Linked DNA regions of Homo sapiens: region 2 is linked to region 1. The links come from fine-mapping of genetic effects on gene expression. Tissue or cell type: whole blood. Region 1 holds a variant in brackets; the other region holds the start of a gene. All regions are shown on one strand. Distances are between the middles of the regions.

Evidence for each region. PIP is the estimated chance that this variant, and not a neighbour inherited with it, causes the effect.
Region 2: PLA2G7 starts here. The variant in region 1 is fine-mapped to the expression of PLA2G7 in whole blood (TOPMed, PIP above 0.99).

The regions. Positions count from the first base shown.
Region 1 is chr6:46,771,462-46,774,145 of GRCh38, forward strand. No RefSeq gene overlaps it. Among named protein-coding and RNA genes, the nearest start is that of MEP1A, 21 kb to the right of the region's middle. The variant G/T (reference allele first, on the strand shown) is at 1,565.
Region 2 is chr6:46,733,758-46,736,441 of GRCh38, forward strand. It overlaps PLA2G7 (phospholipase A2 group VII), which reads right to left and starts at 1,618. Exons shown (of 12, transcript NM_005084.4): 1 at 1,423-1,618.

The DNA.
Region 1 (2,684 bases):
AGCAGAGTGAATAAAACCTGAGTCGTTTTTATTTTGTTTCATTTTTCCTCAAAGATTTTAATGTTCTAGGGAAAAAAAAACCCCTCAGTGGAAGTAAAAGATGACTGACTAACGAAGGCATAATGCCTATGTTTTTGAAAAGTGCTGTGTCAGAGGGCAACAGAACATGGGGGTAAGAGCAGGGGCTTTTGCCTGAGACAGGTAGGTTCCAGCACTTCCCAGCTCAGTGGCCTTGAGAAAGTTGCTGACCTTTGTAAGCCTCAGTTTCTTCCTCTATAAGGCCCATTCATGCTGGCTTCATTGATACTTGTGAAGATTAAGCAATATGTGGCCAGAGAGAAAGAATTGAGAAAGCTTAATGAGAGACACCTTTCTTAGAACTCATCAAGACTAAAGGTTCCTCGAAACATAAGATTGACGGAGGGATAGTGAGATGGCAGGTGACTAGTTATGTGTGAAAGCAAGCAGTAAGAGCTAGTAGAAGGTAGGTATTAGGATGGTACTATAAAATTTTTAAAAATTTTTTCTGTGTATTTGAAAGTTTTCTAAATGTAATGATAGGGGGAAAATCTAGAGGCTTTTCTGTAGTAGCCAGTGGCCTTTGGAAATGTCTGTGGTGCCCACAAGCCCAAGAAATTAGAAACAATTCCCTCACATTCTGCTGTGTAGTCAGAGTTCAGGATCTATTTTAGGGTAGTCAGTTCAAGCAATTCTTTCTAAGCAGTTTGAACTTGAGGAGTTTGGTTAGTCTGCCATATCTTCAGTTTCCTCATTTGTAATTGGTGATAGGCATGCCTGCCTCTTAGGATTACACATGATGTACCTGGCACTCATGATTATAGTTATGACTCTTATTATCGGAGTCAAGAGGACCTTAAAGTTCATCTAACCAAAAACCCTTATTTTACAGATGGGCAATCAGATGCTCAGAGAAGAAAAGTGATTTCCCCAAGCTCACATAGCGGATTTGTTGTAGAATTAGTATTTGAATTTGGGTTTTCTGTGTTCTAGTCCAGTCATCTGTCCACCGTCCCACACTCCCTCCAGAGGATTGTTCCCCCCATCTTATAAAATCACATGTAACAACTATAGGGCAATCAGGCATCACCAATAATTCCTATGCAAAAGAGCAAATTTCACTAAGAGACAGCTCAGGAATTCTCTCCCCTGCTGGCTTTGTCACTCTGTTCTCAACATTTGGGTAGTCCTAGATTCCATCAGACCAAAGGACTTTGGGGCAGAAGCCGTGAGCTCTCCAGGAATCTTGGACTTGAGGGGTACTAGAATTTTTCTCTTTGGGCACTCTGGCATGGCTTGTGGGAACATTATAAGTACAGCAGCAGTCTCTTAGCAAACCATTTCTTGTCACATGTCATTTGACAAAACCAAGGCAAAGAAGAAGCTCCCTTCCAGGATATAACTGGAGTCCCAAGGCCAGCCTGTGGCCACACATGTTCCTCTTATTGGGCCGGGGAACTCTAAATTCTTGCCACATTTGCAGAAGAGAAATCAGAGACCTTCCACCCACTAGGAACCATGTGACTGTTTAGCAACTTTGCAGCAG[G/T]GGTTCAGAAATTAGAGAGAACAGCTTCTGCTCTCTAAGTTGGCTTCCTATTTCTCGCCTGGTCACACTCAAGACACTTCTCTGGCCTTATCTAACACCCATGCACATTGTGCTAGTCTCCAAGTAAATTTAGCTACAAAGATTTTTTTTTTAATGTTCAGTACTGGAATTCCCTCAGCCATGTGACTCTGAGCCTCCTTATCAGGTTCCATGAAACTTGATGACTGCAGATCCTGAAGAATCTAAGGTAGCAAAATACTTTCCACTGAGAAGTCAAGGTTGTGTGTGAAACAGTGAAACATGAGGTCTGGCCCCTATTGCTATTATAAAAATGTTAAGCTATGTAAGCTTTTGGGATGGCTTTTCTGCCATCAGAGCAATCTGTGGAACTGGTTGCCAAGGAGCCAGCAAAGGCTAGATGAGTTCCTTTACAAAACAGTTCTATTGAAGAATAATTTACATGCCATCAAATGCTCTCATTTTAAGTGTATAACTCAATGATGTTTAGTAGACATATGGTTGTGCAACCACCACCACAAACCAATTTTAGAAGATTTTCAACACCCTAAAGAGATCTCTCCTGCCCATTAGCAATCACTCCCAGCTGCCACTCACATGCTCTGGCAGTCACTAATCGTTTTGTCTCTATAGATTTGCCTTTTCTGGACATTTCATGCAAATGAACAGATGAGTTCTTAAGAGTAGGTGTCTCAATGACTCATCTATTCAGTCATATAACAAATATACATTAGGCACACTTAATGTGCCAAGCACTGTTGTAGGTGCCAGGTGCTCACCCTAAAGTGGACAGATAGGCTAGATCCCATGCAGCTGAGAAGGCAATAAGTTAACTCACAAAAACAGTAAAGGGGGATGGAATGTGAAGGGGAGGCCCAAAGATCTCAGGAGCCCTTACCTGGAGCTCATAATGTAGTCTGAAGAATTCAGACCAGAAGAATTCAGGTCTCTTGGAGGAGGTGGTGGTATCTGAACAGAAAACTAAAAGGGAGGCTGGGTTAAGCAGAAGAAGAGGAGGAGAGAGCACACACTAGGCCAAGGAGCTGCTTTAGGAAGGCCCAGACCGAAGAGAATTTATGCCAAGTTTGAGAGACCAAAGCAA
Region 2 (2,684 bases), 38 kb before region 1:
CAGGCCAGTGCTTAATGCTCAGATCTCTGAATTCAATGTAAGCTCAAGGTTTCGTGCTGAGCCTCTTGGGATTGCCAACACCTCAGGGGATACATTTTCCAGCTCCTACCCATATACCAGTCTCCCAGCTCAGCATTCTCATTTGGATCAAAAGTAATTTGTGCAAGCCTGATTTGTTAACACATCCCAAATCTGAATCCGTGTGCCTTTTAAAGGTGGCAAGCTGCCATTTATGAGCCATACGCACCTCTCCTTCCTCATCACCACTGCAGTAATCCCAAGAACCACAGGCATGAATAAAAGCCCGAACTTTTCGTTTTTGGTGACAGAAATTTCTCTTACAAGCTCCAGGAGATGATGAGGAAGACAGTGTTCTCTGTTTTCTGATTTTGCTTAATTTTTTAAAAATGAGCCTCTCCCTTGACTTGGTGACACAGCTGTGATCTTATCTGGCCGGCAGGGGGATGCTCCAGGTAGGACAAAGAGTGCTTTGTTTTGTTCTTACAGCAGCCACGCATAACTGGGCTCCAAAAACGCAATACTCCTCAAAGGGAGAGTGAGAGAGAGGGAGAGAGGGAGAAGGGTGTGTGAGAGAGAGAGCGGAGGGAGAGAGAGAGAGGAGGCAGAGTGAGAGGTGTGTAGTGGTGTGTGTGTGTGTGAGAGAGAGAGAGAGAGAGAGAGAGAGAGAGAGAGAGAGAGAGAGAGAGAGAGAGAGAGAGAGAGAGAGAGAGAGACGGAGAGAGAGATTGTCCCTGTAGGAGATCTACAGATAAGAAAACTCCGGGGCGGGCGCGGTGGCTCATGCCTGTAATCCCAGCATTTTGGGAGGCGGAGGCGGGCGAATCACGAGGTCAGGAGATCGAGACCATTGTGGCGAACACAGCGAAACCCCGTCTCTACTAAAAATTCAAAAAAATTAGCCGAGCGTGATACGGCACGCCAGCAGTCCCAGCTACTCGGGAAGTTGAGGCAGGAGAATTGCTTGAACCCGGGAGACAGAGGTTGCAGTGAGTCGAGATCGCGCCTCTGCACTCCAGCCTGGCGACAAAATGAGACTCCGCCTCAAAAGAAAGAAAGAAGGAACGAAAGAAAGAGAGAGAGAGAGAAAAAAAAGAAAAGAAAACTCCATGTGTTCCCTGCCTGTCCTGATTCTCCCCCCAGCTCTGAGCTCTTAGGGTTGCTTCCTTTCGGGAAAAGGTTTGGAAGAACTGGTGTCTAATACCGTCATCCTCTCCCTCTCCCCGCAAGGATCCTAGCGCTGTTTCCGAGGGCTGCAGGGACTGTGAGCCCAGGACCGGCCAGCAGAGCGGGTGCGACTCAGCGAGCCCACCCCGGCCGGTCGCCGCTCCGGGGTCCCGACCTCCAGCGCGGCGACCGTGCCCTTCCTCCCACTCCCGCCTCGCCCCCGGGGCCCCTCCTCACTCAGGCGCGGCGCGGAGCTGCTCGCGGGAACTGGGGTCCCTGGGCGCGTTCCACCGCGCACCAACGCGACCCAAGCGCTCCAAACCCGACTGCTTCTCGCCGACAGCACTGCGAGCCTCCGACCAGCCGCTGTCCCCCTGGCTGCGGGCCGAGCAGCTCTGGCAGGCGGCGGGCGGGTGGGCTGCGCGCGGGCTGTGTCCTGGGTCCGCCTAGCGCGGCCTTGTGGCCCCGACCCTCTCCTCCCCTGGTGATGCTGGAGGAGGTACCGGGGAGGAGCGTGTGTGGCCCCGGCCTCTCACTAGCAGCGGCGGCTCCCGACGCTAGCCTGCTCGAGCGCACCCAGCACCCTCCCCAAGACCATGGCCCGCACCTGGACCCGCGGTTAACTTAGCCCGCCGCGGAGAGAGCCAGGCAATGCCTGGGTGGTGTCGTGCTCACCAGCTCCTTTCCGCAGACCTGATGCCGATCAGATTTACTCCCTGCTGAATTCACCCCCCAGTCAGGCCGGTTTTCCTTGTTTCACCGTGTTCTCTGAATACACTGAATTACTCCGAGCATCTATAGTTGGCAATGCCCTGCGCATTTTCCGCACTCCGATACACTTTACACTGAACACCAATTCGGAAGTTGTGTGGACCGTGCTCCAGATTGGAAGGCCTGCCACTGTGCTGGTGTCATTTCTCCCTGGAAATGACAATGAAGGACAATCAGGAATAGCACTTAGGTCTGAGGAGAAATGGAGCTAGAAGGAGCCGTTTCATAGCTCAGTGTAACACAGAGTTATTTGGGGTTTAACTGAAACGCCTTCCTTCATCTTCCAATGTTTTCTCTTCAATCCACTTTCTAATAAATTAAAAACACACTCATTTAAAACTTCAGCTAGAAACTTAGGGAAAGTAGTTTGAAATTTATGTGTGGTGTTATTAAAATTTTATATTTTTAAATCGTGTTTTGGTTTTTGGTGAGGTGCCAGAACTGGAGATGAAATTTTGCTTATTTTGATTTTGAGTATTCTGCAGTAAGATGGCCTGAATTTTAGCTTGTTTCTCCCACTTATGAGTGGTGTGACCTTGGGGAAGTTCATCATCTCTGCTTCTCGGTCTCCTCATCCATAAAATCAAGAAAATCAAAATCAGTCAGTCAGAGGCAGTTTGTGAGCACGAAATGCAAATACATGTGAAATGCTTGGGACAGAGCTTGGCCTATGGGAAACATTCATTCAATATGTGTTATCTAATATTGATAGCTTAATGAAGCAGTGA